Linked DNA regions of Homo sapiens: region 2 is linked to region 1. The links come from fine-mapping of genetic effects on gene expression. A gene starts in region 1. The other region holds a variant in brackets. All regions are shown on one strand. Distances are from middle to middle.

Region 1 (8,325 bases):
CTCCGTCTCAAAAAAACAAAATTAGCTGGGTGTGATGCTGTGTGCCTGTAGTCCCAGCCACTCAGGAGGCTGAGGTGGGAGAATCACTTGAGCACGGGAAGGCAAGGTTGCAGTGAGCTATGATTATGCCACTGCACTCCAGCCTGGGCAACAGAGTGAGACCTCGCCATCATCAGAAATACAGACCCTGGCAATGTACCTGGGGTTCTCCTTCCAAAATCCCAACGTTCAACCCAGAAATATTTACTGAATTCCTGCTGTGGGTCAGGAACTCTGCCAGAGATTGCGACAAACAAAAAGAAGGCGGCCATAGTCTCTAATCTTAAGGAACTTACAGCCTGGATGGCTCCACACCAAGAGTCCCTTGATACATGACTCTTAGGATGCCCTGAGAGGCCATTTCAAGGCTGGCAGCTTGGAAAGAAAACTTTCTCCCAGCAAATGAAAACATCACATGTTTCCACCTTAGCATCACATCAGACACCATGGCAACAGAGGGCTGTACCAAGAATTAGCTCAGTGATGACCTAGCCAACACAAACCGGCTTAATGCTCCTTGAGTAAGATTCCTGGAAGGAAAGGGAGTTCAAATAAATAAGTCTCTCTCCAGCTCTCAACAAGCAGAACTGCTTCCCTTCTTCCAGAGCTGTACTTTTTCTCAAAAATTTTTCCCCATGCCAAGATACACAGAGAGAATGATAGAATGATACTATTGTATAACACCCGGGAGTCAGTGGAGACAGCTGTTCTCAGCTATCCTGAAGCTTAAGGGTCGATACTTTGGCACACCTATAGCCCATTCACATCATACAGCTGAGAAGCTGTGAAGAGGACCTAAGTTGCCCATATTACACACTCACACTTCCAAAGTAAAACAGAAGGCCAAACCAAAGTCTCACTCATTTAACTATGAACTTGTGATTATGATAGAGAACTCCAGCACCTACTTCTGTAGGGGCATTCTGTTCTAGATGCCAACCAGATGCCTGAGGTGAAGTGCAACTGGAGCTCAGTGTCAGATGCAAACAGGTTTCCTGAAGGCTGCACTTTTTCTAGCTCATTTATGCAACTTAACAAGCACAAAACTACAATTAGACCTAGACAATATGCTTATTCAGCAAACCCACCCTCTAGTGAATCAGCATTCCAAATCTCTTCTAGGGGTATGGCCAACTGAATCGACCCTGATTTAGAGGCACCATATTGCGGGAGGCTGAGGCAGGAGAATCGCTTGAACCCGGGAGGCAGAGGTTGCGGTGAGCCAAGATTGAGCCATTGCACTCCAGCCTGGGCAACAAGAGCAAAACTCCGTCTCAAAAAAAAAAAAAAAAAAAAAAAAGAAGCACACTATTGTCAGTTTTCCCCGATGACCAGAAATGACCTTGAGGAAATCACACAATACAAAGCAGCTTCCTACACACAACTAACCCTGAAGAACAAACACGCTTATTAAGACAAGACCTTCTAGCCGGTTGTGGTGGCTCATGCTTGTAATCCCAGCACTTTGGGAGTCCGAGGTGAGTGGATCACCTGAGGTCAGGAGTTTGAGACCAGCCTGAGCAATACGGTGAAACCTCGTCTCTACTAAAAATACAAAAATTAGCCAGGTGTGGTGGCAGGCATCTGTAGTCCCAGCTACTGAGGAGGCTGAGACAGGAGAATTGCTTGAACCTGGGAGGCGGAGGTTGTAGTGAGCCGAGCTCACGCCATTGCACTCCAGCCTGGCGACAGAGCGAGACATCATCTCAAAAAAAAAAAGAAAAGAAAAAAGAAGACAAGACCTTCTTTTGACAAGGGAAACTCTGGGAAGAGGAGCCATTAGTAATAAAAGTGGCTTCCATTAACTGAGTGCCAACTTTGCTAAGGATCTTATATGTACCATCTCACTCCTCTCTACAAGCACATGTAGTAGGCACGATGATTCCTATTTTGGAATAAGGAAATTAGGACTTAGAGAACCTCAAGATTTCAGAAAAGCCAGAAACTGAATCCAGGTCTTTCTGACACCAAAGCCCATGCTTCTAGGCATGAGACCACAACAGGAGTCCACAAGGCAAGGCCTTCTCACTGGACAAAGGAGACAACAGTTTTCTTAGGCAATGACAAAGATCTTCAATGAGGAAGCACAGTAAAGTTACCTGGGAAGTTTTCTCAAAATACAGATACCTGGCCAGACATGGTGGCTCACGCCTGTAATCCCAGCACTTTGGGAGGCTGAGACGGGTGGATCACGAGGTCAAGAGTTCAAGACCAGCCTGGCCAACAGGATGAAATCCCGTCTCTACTAAGAATACAAAAATTAGCTGGGCGTGGTGATGCGTGATTGTAATCCCAGCTACTCGGGAGGCTGAGGCAGGAGAATCGCTTGAACCTGGGAGGCGGAGGTTGCAGTGAGCCGAGATCGCACCACTGCACTCCAGCCTGGGTGTCAGAGCAAGACTCCATCTCAGAAAAAAAAAAAAAATACAGATTCCTACCCCAGATCTTCTTCATCAAAATCTCAAAGAGTGGGTCAGGTGTGGTGGCTCTTGCCTGTAACCCTAAAACTTCGGGAGGCCAAGGTGGGAGGACTGCTTGAGCCCAGGAGTTCGACACCAGCCTCGGCAACATGGCGAGACCTCGTCTCTGTTTAAACAAAAAAAAAAAAATCTCAGCCAGGCATAGTGGCTTATGCCTGCAACCCTAGCACTTTGGGAGGCCGAGGCAGGTGGATCACCTGAGGTCAGGAGTTCGAGACCAGCCTGGCCAACACGGTGAAACACCATCTCTACTAAAAATACAAAATTAGCTGGGCATAGTGGTGCTTGCCTGTAACCCCAGCTACTCTGGGGGCTGAGGCAGGAGAATCACTTGAACCTGGGGGGTAGAGGTTGCAGTGAGCCAAGATCGCGCCATTGCTCCAGCCTGGGCAAAAAGAGCAAAACTCCGTCTCAAAAAAAAAAAAAAAAAAAAACTAACTCAGACAGTAAGGCTCTTGATTTTGTATCACAAAATTATCCCAGGAGATTTTGGACTATCCAGGATTAAGAGGCTGTACTACCTACCACACACATACGCTGGCATTTGCTGTGCTCATCTTAGATCCTAGCCCTGATAGGTGCTCAAAAATACAGTTGAATCTATCCATTCATAAGTCAGCATTCAGCAAATGCTACTGGAGGCTAGCCCCTATTTTATGCCAGGCACAGAGCCAGACATATGCAGACAGAAGACCACCATGTGACACAACAGGATGTACTCAATAGTAGCAGCATGGATATAGAGGAGTTAATGGTTACATGCCAAGCAAGGTAGATTTTTTTCCTAGGAAGTGACATCTCAGGTGGATTTTATAGGACAGATGTAAGTTTCCAACACTGGTAGGTGGTCGGTGGGGTGGAAGGCAGTGTATAGCAAACTGAGAAAACTGCGTTATCTAAAGCACAAGGGGACCAAGCACAGTGGCTCACGCTTGTATTAATAATCTCAATATGTTAGGAGCCTAGGCAGGAGGGTCTCTTGAAGCCAGCTCTGGCAACAAAGCCAGACTCCCTGGCTCTACAAAAAATTTTAAACTTAGCCAGGCGTGGAGGGGAGTGCCTCTTGTCTCAGCTACTCGGGAGGTTGAGGCGGGAGGATCATTTGAGTCCAGGAGTTCAAGGCTGCAGTGAGCTATGAATGAGCCATTGCACTCCAGCTTGGGCAATAGAGGCCTTGTCTCAAAATTAGTAATACTAAAACACAAAGGTATGAAACCAGAGCTAACAGGAGCGCCACACGTTTTAACAACAATAAACTACGTAAAGGGAGCACAGAAGTGCTCCGGTGTTGATTGGCTGGTTAAACCTTCACCAGATTACGAAGAGCCCTGAATGCCTTGCTAAGAAGTGCGGCCTTTGTCCTGAAGGCACTAAGGAACTAGTTTCAGGCAGTGAAGGACTTACTCAGATTTTCAGGTGGGAATTATCACTTCAGCCGCTTTATGGAGGGGGACTAAGTGTGGGGGACTAGGCTTCCCCTTGCAGGTAGAGGAATGACAAGCTTGCCAAGCAAGCAACCCAGCTGGACTCAGACCTGCTATTTCCCAGCCTGCACAAGGAAGCGATCAGCTGCCCCGCCGGCCCCTGGCAGACGCAAAGGAGGGGTGTGGAGTAGGCGCCGGGCGCGAGAAGGCAGTAAGGACAAGGACAACCAGGTTGGATCAACCTGACCCGCTCTGGACGCGGGGCGGCTGAACAGCAAGCAGGCAGGGCAACCGACCACGTCCACCAGGCCCAAGCGGGCCTGGAGACGGGCTATCCAGCACGACAGCACGTTCCGAGGCCAGTCCAGACTCGGACGCCGGGAACCCGAGCAGCCATCGCCCGGCCTGCTCTCCAACCCTGTAGGCCCTGGCGCACGGGGCACGGGCCGACGCTGCAGGCTGACCAGGGGCAGGCCCCGGAGCGCCAGAAAGCGACCACGACCACAGTTCGGCTGCCCCTCCCGCCCGTCGGGCCGTCGTCCTGGGCCGGGCCGCCTCACCTCGCGCGGGCGGCGGGCTCTTCGGCGTCTCGGCGGCTCTGCCGGCCATCTCCGGGCAATGGCAGCGGCCGCCGCCGCCGCCGCCGCCGCCGCCATTCTCGGGCGTTAGCGTCGTGGCGTCATCACAGCGCGCAGCTGACGCCAAAACAAGCCTACGGGGCGGGTCGGGGGCGGGTCGGGGGCGGACTCTCCCGAAACTGGGCTACGCGGCTGGCGGATCTCCGAGCGTGGCCTGCCAATCAACCTCTTCGGGGCGGGGACGGGCACTCTCCTGAAGGGGTGGGTCTATTTGTCGCTCAAAGTAACTTGACCGCTGCCTGCGAGACGGGTCGGTGATAGAAAAAGGAAGGATCGCGGGAAATAGGGAGAAAGTTTCAAGTTTCTGGTTGGGGGAAAGGGGACTCTGTAATGCGAGCTTGGGTAAACAATGCTTTCCAACAGAGGTTTCTGGAAGTGCCTCTGGAACTCCGCAAAGGATAGACTTAATTTTCATTAACAAAATCTATTTTTTAAAACTGCACTTAGAATAATTTCAACACTCCATGTGTTGAATTTGGCCTCCATCAAAGAAGAGATGCAAAGGGTTAATTTGTAGATAGGTGAAGTCAATCTTGGGCCAACTTCTGGACTCATGGTTATTTGTTGTTGTTAATTTAATTTATATGCCGAGTCTGAAAAGCAAGCGGATTTTTAAAAAATTGTTACCATTCACAATGACTTCTCTATAGGATCAGAACTGGTTCACTTTACAGTCAACCCAACTTGGAGGGGTTAAAATAGGTGCTGCAGATGGTAAGTGCATTGTAACCTCCATCCATCTTCCCCATTTCAGTAGCTCTGTATTCAAATCTTTATTGAGTATGTACTTTGCACATGGAACTGTCTTTGATTGACTGTATAAGCTAATGTTATACTTTAAACCTAAAAATAAATTAACACCAATAAAACATTGTCGTCGGCTGGGCGCCACTGCTCACACTTGTAATCCCAGCACTTTGGGAGGCCAAGGCAGGTGGATCACCTGAAGTCAGGAGTTTGAGACCAGTCTGACCAACAAGGTGAAACCCTGTCTCTACTAAAAATACAAAAATTAGCCAGGCTTGGTGGCAGGCTCCTGTAGTCCCAGCTACTCGGGAGGCTGAGACAGGAGAATAGCTACAACCTGGGAGACAGAGGTTGCAATGAGCTGAGATTGCACCACTGCACTCCAGCCTTGGCGATGGAGTGAGACTCCGTCTCAAAAAAAAAAAAAAAATTGTTGTCTATTTTATGTAGTAAGGTTTCTTTCTTTTCTTTTTTCCTGAGATGGAGTTTCGCTCTTGTTGTCAGGCTGGAGTGCAATGGCACAATCTCGGCTCACTGCAACCTCTGCCTCCCAAGTTCAAGCAATTCTCCTGCCTCAGCCTCCCCGAGTAGCTGGGATTACAGGCGCCTGCCACCATGCCCGGTTAATTTTCTTTATTTTTATTTTTATTTTTATTTTTATTTTTATTTTTATTTTTTTTGAGAAAGAGTCTCGCTTTGTCACCCAGGCTAGAGTGCAGTGGCGCAGTCTCGGCTCACTGCAAGCTCCGCCTCCTGGGTTCACGCCATTCTCCTGCCTCAGCCTCCCGAGTAGCTGGGACTATTGGCGCCCACCACTGTGCCCAGCTAATTTTTTGTATTTTTAGTAGAGACGGGGTTTCACCATGTTAGTCAGGATGGTCTCGATCTCCTGACCTCGTGATCCGCCCGCCTCGGCCTCCCAAAGTGCTGGGATTACAGGCGTGAGCCACCATGCCCAGCCGTAGTAAGGTTTCTTACAAGATTTCATTTAAAAAGAACAATGGTGGCCCAGCGCGGTGCCTCACGCGCCTGTAATCCCAGCACTTTGGGAGGCCCAGGTGAGCAGACCACCTGAGGTCAGGAGTTGGAGACCAGCCTGGCCAACATGGTGAAACCCCATTGCTACCAAAAATACAAAAATTAGCTAGGCGTGGTGGCAGGCGCCTGTAATCCCAGCTACTTGGGAGGCTGAGGCAGGAGAATTGCTTGAACCTGGGAGGCAGAGGTTGCAGTAAGCCGAGATCACGCCATTGCACTCCAGCCTGGGCGAGAAGAGTAAAACTCCATCTCAAAAAAAAAAAAAAGTTAAAAAATTGTTTCCAAAAGTCTAGTGCAATAATTAAGGGTATAGACTTTGGTGCCAAACATACCTGGGATCAAATCCCAGCTCTGACACTTCCAGAGCTGTTTGACTTTAAGCAAGACATCTGCCTCATCAGCCTCATTTTATTTTTTAAATTTTGGCCAGGTTGGTCTTGAATTCCTGACCTCAGGTGATCCACTGGCCTCAGCCTCCCAAAATCCTGGGATTACAGGCGTGAGCCACTGCACCTGGCCTTTTTAATTTTTTTAATAGAGACAGGGTCTTGCTCTGTCATCCAGGCTGGAGTGCATGGCAGCAATCAAAGCTCACTGTAACCTCGAACTCCTAGGCTCAAGGGATCCTCCTGCCTCTGGAACAGGAATTAAAAGAAATTAAAGAATGTGTAAGTAGAAACTCAGTTGTATGTAAGAAAACCCAATTCCCCCTGAGAAAGAGAAAGAGCTGGAGTTCTTTAAAAATTAACTGCCTGTTTTTCTGTGGCTAGGAAGCCTTATCTCTCCTCCTTTCCCAGGCATTGTGAAGACCCTGTTTCACTAGCTGTGCAGTTACAAGGTCACTAGACAGATAAACTCAAGTCGTAAAACATGCTTCTCCTTGAAAAGTAAGAAATGATGTAATGCGGCCGGGCACAGTGGCTCACGCCTGTAATCCCAGCACTTTGGGAGGCCGAGGCGGGCGGATCACGAGGTCAGGAGTTCGAGACCAGCCTGGCCAACATGGTGAAACCCTGTCTGTACTAAAAATACAAAAATTAGCTGGGTGTGGTGGCGCGTGCCTGTAATCCCAGCTACCCAGGAGGCTGAGGCAGGAGAACTGCTTGAACCGGGACCCGGGAGGCAGAGGTTGCAGTGAGCTGAGATCACGCCATTGCACTCCAGCCTGGGCAACAAGAGTGAAACTCTGTCTCAAAAAAAAAAAAAAAAAAAAGAAATGATGTAATGCATGTCTCAATTAATTTAATAACTGTCTTTGTTTCTTGCTTCTGTAATATGCTTCCCCCTGCACAGATCTCCCCCCACCCCACAAAATGCTTAAAAGGTAACTTAACTCTTTGTTCAGGGCTCAGTCCTTTGGATGTTAATCTGACTGGGCCGATGCACCTAAATAATTAATAAATATCCTCCTGAACCCCACTGGTCTCTCTGATTCCTTAAAATCCCGCTACACCTCGGCCTCCCAAATAGCTGAGTCTACAGGCATGCACCACCATGCCTGACTTGCTTATTTATTTATGTATTTTGAGACGGAGTTTCGCTCTTGTTTTCCAGGCTGGAGTGCAACTGCACGATCTCGGCTCACCGCAACCTCCGCCTCCTGGGTTCAAGCGATTCTCCTGCCTCAGCCTCCCAAAGTGCTGGGATTACAGGCATGAGCTATTGTGCCCGGCCTAATTTTGTATTTTTAGTAGAGACAGGGTTTCTTCATGTCGGTCAGGCTGGTCTCGAACTCTCAACCTCAGGTGATCCGCCAGCCTCGACCTCCCAAAGCACTGGGATTATAGGCCTGAGCCACCATGCCTGGCCTATTTATTTAGACAGGGCCTTAAGTTATCCTCCCACCTCAGCCTTCCAAGGTGCTGGGATTACAGGCATGGACCACTGCGCTGGGCCATAAGCCTCATTTTTATTTTTCTTTTTTTTTTTTTTTTTTTTTGAGATGGAGTTTCACTCTTG
Region 2 (8,325 bases), 220 kb after region 1:
TGTCTCCTGTGGGCTTGGTCAGTATGTGAGCTACCAGGGGGCCAGGCTGGGCCTGACTCTCGGAGAGGCCTAATAAACAGTACGTATGATAAAACAACTCCTCTGTATTCGTTTTGATTTTATTTATTTTTTGAGACAGAGTCTTGCTGTGTCATCCACGCTGGAGTACAGTGGCTTGATCATAGCTCACCGCAGCCTCTAACTCCTGGACTCAAGTGATTCTTCCACCCTAGCCTCTTGTGTATCTGGGACTACAGCTGTGCACTGCCACACCTGTGAGCCACCTCACCCAGCCTGAAAATTAGATTTTCTAAAAAGACATTATAAAATCAACATGGGTTGGGCATGGTGGCTCATGACTGTTATCCTGGCACTTTGGGAGGCCAAGGCAGGAGGATCACCTGAGGCCAGGAGTTTGAGACCAGCCTGGGCAATGTAGCAAGACCCTGTATTTACAAAAAGTTTAAAAATCAGCTGGGCGTGCTGTCACTCATCTATGGTCCTTGCTACTTGGAAAGCTGGGAGGAAGGCTCTGTTTGAGCTCAGACCAAGACTGCAGTGAACCAGAATCCCGCTACTGCACTCCAGCTAAGTGACAAAGCAAGACCCTGTTTTTTTTTGTTGTTGTTGTTGTTTTTTTTTTTTTGAGACGAAGTCTCGCTCTGTCGCCCAGGCTGGAGGGCAATGGCACTATCTCAGCTCACTGCAACCTCCGCCTCCGGGGTTCAAGCAATTCTCCTGCCTCAGCCTCCTGAGTAGCTGGGATTACAGGCGCCTGCCACCCCGCCCAGCTAATTCTTGTATTTTTAGTAGAGATAGGGTTTCATCATGTTGGTCAGGGTGGTCTCGAACCCCTGACCTCGTGATCCACCCGCCTCGGCCTCCCAAAGTGCTGGGATTACAGGCCTGAGCCACTGCGCCCGGCCAAGACCCCGTCTCTTAAAAAAAGGAAGAAGAAACTAAATCAGATTTTCAAAGTACAGAACATAGAAATTATTTACCTGGGGCCGACGCGGTGGCTCACGCCCCAGCACTTCGGGAGGCCAAAGTGGGTGGACCACCTGAGGTCAGGAGTTCAAGACCAGCCTGGCCAACATAGTGAAACCCCATCTCTACTAAAAATACAAAAAACTTAGCTGGGCATGGTGGCAGGCTCCTGTAATCCCAGCTAGCTCAGGAGGCTGAGGCAGGAAAGTCACTTGAACCCAGGAGGCAGAGGTTGCAGTGAGCTGAGATCGTACCATTGCACTCCAGCCTGGGCGACAAGAGCAAAACTCTGTCTCAAAAAAAAAAAAAGAAAAAAAAAAGAAATTATTTACCTGGAAAATGTAGTTTCTATGTGAGTCTTTTATTTATTTATTTATTTGAGACAAAGTCTCATTCTGTCACCCATGCTGGAGCGCAGTGGCTTGATCGCAGCAAACTGCAGCCCCAATCTCCTGGACTCAAGGGATCGTCCTACCTCAGTCTCCCAAGTAGCTGGGGCTACAGGTACACGCCACCACGCCTGGCTTATTTTTTATTTTTAATAAATACTAGGTCTTGCTATGTTGCCCAGGCTGATTTTGAACTCCTGAACTCAAGTGATCCTCCCACCTTGGCCTCCCAAAGTGCTGGGATTATAAGCGTGAGCCACCACGCCCAGCCAAGTCTTAAAATCCAAGTCACAATGGGCTTTTTTTCTCTGTATTTACGACATTGGCTGAATCCCTCCCTTGGCGATGGTAATAAAATGTACTGTTGACAGAGCTGTACTGAGCCAGGTACTTTACATATACTGCTTTGGTTGCCTTAGTCCTCCTTTCTTCCCCTGTAACTGTAAAATCCTGCTTTACAGTTATAGTAGTAAACAAAAACCCAGGGAAGTTTAGAAACTTCCCAGATCATCTAGCAGTGAAGTGAGAGAGCCAAGATTTGAGCACAGGAATTTCTGGCTCCAAAGCTTGAGTCCAGCACCAGTAATTGACTCTTCCTGGGTAGTCAGTTGTCCTGGGGCCCATCCATCATGTGGGACATCGGCCATTTCTTTTTCTTTTTCTTTTTTTTTTTTTTTTTTGAGACAGAGTTTCACTCTCGTCGCCAAAGCTGGCGTGCAATGGCGCAATCTTGGCTCACCGCAACCTCCACCTCCCGGGTTCAAGTGATTTTCCTGCCTCAGCCTCCCGAGTAGCTGGGATTACAGGCATGTGCCACCACGCCCAGCGAATTTTGTATTTTTAGTAGAGACGGGGTTTCTTCCTGCTAGTTAGGCTGGTCTCAAACTCCCAACCTCAGGTGATCCACCCACCTTGGCCTCCCAAAGTGCTGGGATTATAGGCGTGAGCCACCATGCCCAGCCAAGACATTGGCCATCTCTATGAAGTTTTCTTAGTTTTTGTTGCAAGATTTATTGTCTGTAGTTACTATTGTTTCTGCTGTAAGCTGGCCCCTCCTGAGCCTGTGTGAACAGAATCCATCTTGGTCCATCAGGGTAAGCTGCACCCTGCAGTGAGCCATCAGAAATAATCTGTGTCTTAACCATTACCTCATCTGAAAACATTCAGAAAATGTTTGGGGGCCTGAGGGAAGATGAGCACCATGGTTACTGAAGATGCACATACCTGGAGAAGGCACATTCTTGTGACCGGTTGCCCCAGGTCACAGGCATCCAGGCCTAAGGCTGCCCCTCCAACCAGGAAGTACCTGTGGAGTGCCAGAGTGGAGCCTGGATGGCTGTGGAGGAGAAGCCCAGGTGCACACATTGCCCAGATGGGCTTCAACTAGAAGGGTAAGCACATGAATTAGTCCAGCCCAAGACTTGGTATCCAGTTTTCCACATTGCATGTAGGCTCTGTGTAATGCTTTCAGTCTCGTTTCCTAACCCACCCCTGCCTTCTCAGTCCTTCAGCATTTCGTGATCATTGCCTCTCCCCAATCCCCAAGTCCTTCTGCACAGCAGCCCCCATCTCACATTCAGTGGCTAGAGCAGGATGAGCAACCGAGAGACCACAGGAGGCAAAGAGTCAAAAAGATAATTTTGGAGTGGTCAGGCATGGCAGCTCATGCCTTAATCCCAGCACTTTGGGAGGCCAAGGCGGGTGGATCACCTGAGGTCAGGAGTTGGAGACCAGCCTGGCCAACATGGTGAAACCCTGTCTCCACTAAAAATACAAAAGTTAGCCGGGCGTGGTGGTGGGCACCTGTAATCCCAGCTACTCAGGAGGCTGTAGCAGGAGAACCGCTTGAACCCAGGAGGCGGAAGTTGCAGTGATCCGAGATCATG[C/T]GACTGCACTCCAGCCTGGGCAAGAGTGAGACTCTATCTCAATATTTTTTTAAAAAGAAAATTTTGGAGGAGTGCACAGATCATGTATCAAGACCTTATGGGTGGGGCCTTTGTAAGGACTTTGGCTTTTATTCCGAGAAGCTATTGCACATTGGAGAGCTTTTTCGTGGGTTTTTGCCAGGGTGTCTTTACCCTTTCTGGCTTACTATGACTTGTAAACTTCTGTATGTGTCTAGTCCATACTGCTTTTTGGGCTTTCTAAGTTTTCTATTTAAAGTATTAGCACAGGATTTCCTTCGACTTGAACCACACAAAGCTCGCAGGAACACTGCAGGTGTTAGTGTCTCATGGCTGCTCATATCCTCACAAGCTTTCATCTTGAAACATGGAGCAGCATTCATCCCTTCAGTTCCCAGCTGCTTATCCTCTAGCACTCTCCTCAGGGCTTTGTCCAGCTTTGTTTACCTCTGGGTGCGTGTTGGCTGCAGCGTACCCAGAATGGGTGTGAGGGCAAAAAGGGTATTCTCACTTCCTTCCCTTCCTGCCGGAGCCAAACATGTTCTAGCCTTGGGCCACTCTAACTTGTTGGACCAGTGTTTTCAGAGAACAATCTGCAGGGAATCTTAGGGCCCTCTCTGGAGTTATGACTAAGAGTAGAAGTTATGAATAGTCCATCCCCTAGAAAATAGGTTAGATTTCCTTGCCCCAAGCTGATGACCTAATAAATGCATGACAACATAGAGACACGTCCATGAAGTGTGCCCACCTCTCTAGCCCACCTGTGTTATTCAGGGTTCTCCAGAGAAACAGAACCAATAGGGTGTTTAAGACAGAGATTTATTTGAAGAAATTGGGGCCAGGCATGGTGGCTCACACCTGTAATCTCAGCACTTTGGGAGGCCAAGGCAGGAGGATCACTTGGGCCCTGCCTAGGCAACAGAGGAGGACCCCATCTCTACAAAAAAAAAATTTTAAATTAGCCAGGCGTGGTGGTACACACCTGTGGTCCCACTTAGGAGGCCAAGATGGAGGATCGCTTGAGGCCAGGAGATTGAGACTAGCCTGGGCAGCATAGCAAGACCCCACCTCTACAAAAAAGAAAAAAAAATTAGTTCGTGCAGTTGTAAGGCAGAGAAGTCCAAAATCCTCAGGGCAGGCGGACATGCTGGAGATTCCCCCTTGAAACTTTGAGATTTCCTGTTGTGTCCTGTTGTTAGGTATTGGGAAGAATGTGGTTTGCGAGAAGGCAGCAACATCGGTGGATGCCTTCCGGATGGTGACAGCCTCGCGCTACTACCCGCAGCTCATGAGCCTGGTAGGGAACGTGCTGCGCTTCCTGCCTGCCTTCGTGCGCATGAAACAGCTGATTTCGGAACACTATGTGGGAGCGGTGATGATCTGTGATGCCCGCATCTACTCAGGCAGCCTGCTGAGCCCCAGCTATGGCTGGATCTGTGATGAGCTCATGGGCGGCGGGGGCTTGCACACCATGGGGACCTACATTGTGGACCTGCTGACCCACCTGACCGGCCGGAGAGCCGAGAAGGTGCACGGGCTGCTCAAGACATTCGTGAGGCAGAACGCTGCCATCCGTGGCATCCGGCACGTCACTAGCGATGACTTCTGTTTCTTCCAGATGCTCATGGGTGGGGGTGTGTGTAGCACAGTGACACTCAACTTCAACATGCCAGGCGCCTTTGTGCATGAAGTCATGGTGGTAGGCTCTGCAGGACGCCTCGTCGCCCGGGGAGCCGACCTCTATGGGCAGAAGAACTCTGCCACGCAAGAGGAGCTGCTCTTGAGGGACTCGCTGGCAGTGGGCGCAGGACTGCCTGAGCAGGGGCCCCAGGATGTCCCGCTGCTGTACCTGAAGGGCATGGTCTACATGGTGCAGGCCTTGCGCCAGTCCTTCCAGGGGCAGGGCGACCGCCGCACCTGGGACCGCACCCCTGTCTCCATGGCCGCCTCCTTCGAGGATGGGCTGTACATGCAGAGCGTGGTGGATGCCATCAAGAGGTCGAGCCGATCCGGGGAGTGGGAGGCTGTGGAGGTGCTGACGGAGGAGCCCGACACCAACCAGAACCTGTGTGAGGCACTTCAGCGGAACAACCTATGAGCCTGCACCTGGGCTCCTTGCCACAGGGCAGAGGGACCAGGGAGGGGAACAGGAGCCAGACATGACAGGGACTTGGCCCTAGCAGAGACAGTGTCTTTCATTTAATGAGTCTGGGTGAAGCCAGAGGTGGCTCTGGGACTTCGCCCCCTCCAGTGGCTCATCTGCTCCTCAGACTTGCAGGGTGGCAAATGTTCCTGTTGCCAGGTTACCACGGTGTGCACAGGGCAGAGCTGCCGCCAGGCCTCCTCATGGTGATGCCAGTGAGTCGGACCAGGAAAGGCTCACCCTGGGGAGCCCTTCAGCCTGATCCGCAGTCCTAACAGGGTGAGAAAGCACAAGAGGGGCCAGCTCGGCTGAGGCCTGAGGAGAAATGATGAGAAGTTTTGTTTCGTTCTTGGGCTGGGGCATCTCAGGAACAGTGAGGGCAACAAGCTGTCCCTCAGGGACCCTCACCTGCCCTCCCATGTGACCAGGCCCTTCCCAGGTGGGGACTGGGGCTTGCTTTATTAAGTGAGCTCTTGGGCTTTTGAAGTAGGACAGAGGGCCCTGGTTTGGCAGAGAGGAGGCAAGGGAGGGCTTTAGAACATCTGAGAAATGTTAATAAATAATTCAGAAAATAGGACATGGCATGTGGTTTTTGTTTGGTAGGTTGGGTTTCTTTAATACTGAAAGGCTTGTTTCTGGCTGGTAGGGGGTTTTTCTCTACTCATTGCTCCACAGCAGCTCGGAGCCAGCGTGGGTCATCACCGCCAACTGTGCCACACGGGCCGCTGCCCCTGCCAGCCCTCGTCTCCTGCCTGTTCCCTCATAGCCAAATCCCAGGAGCCTCAGAAGAAAAGATTTCCTCAGAGAACAGGACTCAGGACTTCCTAATGGGCTGCTGCTGGGCCTGCCGTCTCAGCAGATAGCGGGAGAGTTTGGGGCCTCACTGGGGTGGAGGTTAGGAGGGGTTCTGTTCTTAATGTCACGGTGTTGGCTGCCAGAGTGCTCTTGAGGTGGCGGGGAGGAGTGGTTTCAGGGAGGTGGCACAGGGTGAGGAGGAGGAGGAAGAGCTCCAGGCGTGCCCCATGGAGCAGCTGTGGCTGGACCCGAGGGCCAATCACCCACCATGCTCTTGACTGTGCTCTGCACAGGGCCAGCCTTCTACCCAGCTCTGCCAGAGGCGGCGGGGGGTGGGGGCGGGGGGGCACGGTGTTGAGAAAAGACATGCGTTCCCCTTTGCTTGTTTGACCAGCCTGCCAGGATCGTTCAGCCTGGACCAAGTTCTGTTCCCTTCTCTAACCTTCCGCCCTCTTCCCTGCCCTGGGCTCCTTGCCAGAAAAGCCCAGGGAGGGCTTCCTCTTCCTCTTGGCACCGCTTCTAGACGTCACCAGGCTTGTTTTCCTGTAATTTCCTGGATTCAGATGTCCTTGTGAGAGGGAATAACAAGGGATAGGGTTGGAGTGTGCCTACTGCATGCTGACCCTCAGGGCAAACGTGTATGTTATTATTTCCCTTAACCTCCAAACCACTCTCTGACGGTAAATATTCTCATCATTCAGATCATAAAATGGAGGCACAGAGGGCAAAGCTACTTGCCTCCTGTAGATTGTACATGATGGAGCCAGGAGCCTGGTCAGGACCATCTAACCACAGAGCCTGACCTTGAACCACGCTTCCTCCCAGCATTTGGGAATCTTCAGACCTGAGGGCCCGGCATTGCCCCTCCCTGTGGCAGGAGCCTCGGCCTGGCCTGAACTAGGAGGTGAAATGCAGATAGCACCCACCACCAGGCAGGACACCGAAGGTTAAAGGGGAGGCTGCCCCCTTGTCCCTGGGACAGTTAGCTCAGCTCAGTCCTCCCATGTGTTGCTAGGATGTCGAGGTCACTCTGAAATGTGGGAATTGACCAGGAAAGCACAAGCCTGACTTAGATGCTCCCACATAAGAAAGGGCCATGTGGCCAACCCAGAATGGCACTCGGGTTCCCAGAATGTGCTGGGGGGAGGGTACTGCAGTGGGCTGAATGCAGAGCTGCTTTAATGAGGACCCCGGTTCCTCTGAGGGAATCCCCAGAGCCTAGATTCACGGCCAGAGTGGTGCATGGCCCCTTCCCTCAGACGTCTTTACCATCGAGTTATCCTGGGCATCAGAGCTGGTCAGTCCCACACTGGGGATGGGGAAGACAGATGTGCCCAGATGCCTGTGGCCAAGGGAGCCCACAGGGTTCTGGTCTCCATGGGTGACTGAACCCACACTGGTTCTAGACTTGTCCGGCAGCACCCCCTCCTGGAAGAAGGCAGTAGCATCTCCCAGGACCTGTTTCCAAATCTCAGGATGTTACCAGCTCTTCCTCAGGTCAAAATAAAGTTTTTCCAGGACAGTAAAAATGCAGTTAGCTTGGCTCGTCAGATACAGCAACCAGAAGAGAACTTCCCAAATACCTGTCGCTTATTCTTCAACCTCCAGCCAAATCCAGGACTGTTTTCACCTAGACGATGGCAGCCACTTCCTTTCCTGTTCTGCCCATCACCCTGCTGGCCAAGCAGCCTCTCCTGAATGTCACGCCAAGATCCCTCCCTATCCACACCCTTCCTCCTCACCCCCGGACTTGACCAACCTGGTTTCCATATGGCCATGCCCTCCTCTCCAGCCACACTAAGAGCCCTCCTGCAGAGGTGGCAGCTTCCATACTAGCAGGGCTTTGTCCCTGGCATGTCCTCTGCCTGGAAGGCACCACCTCTCTCTCTCAGGAGTCAGCTGGAGGACTGCCCGGTCACCACTTCTGACTTCAGCAAAGTAGCCACCTCCCAACCTGTGGTTCCACAGCCTTGGTCCTCAGTTGAGCTGAGGTTGCATGTCCCTCCATCCCTCCCTCCCTCCCTCTCTCCCTCTCCTTTTCTTTTCTTTTTTCTTTTCTTGTCTTCTTTCTTTCTTTTCCTTTTTTTCTCTCTTTTTTCTCTTTCCC

Direction of the effects. Positions count from the first base shown, and alleles are read on the strand shown. Sizes are in standard deviations (SD) of each study's normalised expression.
With allele T in place of C in region 2, the expression in monocytes after R848 of the gene that starts at base 4,621 in region 1 is higher (large effect, 1.1 SD a copy in Quach 2016).

Evidence for each region. PIP is the estimated chance that this variant, and not a neighbour inherited with it, causes the effect. A credible set is the group of variants that fine-mapping cannot tell apart.
Region 2: its variant is the best candidate, but not a certain one, in a credible set for the expression of PSKH1 in monocytes after R848 (Quach 2016, PIP 0.59).

The regions. Positions count from the first base shown.
Region 1 is chr16:67,889,550-67,897,874 of GRCh38, reverse strand. It overlaps PSKH1 (protein serine kinase H1), which reads right to left and starts at 4,621. Exons shown (of 3, transcript NM_006742.3): 1 at 4,504-4,621. RefSeq lists silencers at 4,375-4,494, 4,825-4,884.
Region 2 is chr16:67,672,208-67,680,532 of GRCh38, reverse strand. GFOD2 (Gfo/Idh/MocA-like oxidoreductase domain containing 2) reads left to right here. Exons shown (of 3, transcript NM_030819.4): 3 at 4,480-5,997. The coding sequence ends at 5,378. Among named protein-coding and RNA genes, the nearest start is that of C16orf86, 9.6 kb to the right of the region's middle. RefSeq lists enhancers at 1,555-2,510, 2,511-3,467, 7,382-7,441. The variant C/T (reference allele first, on the strand shown) is at 3,263.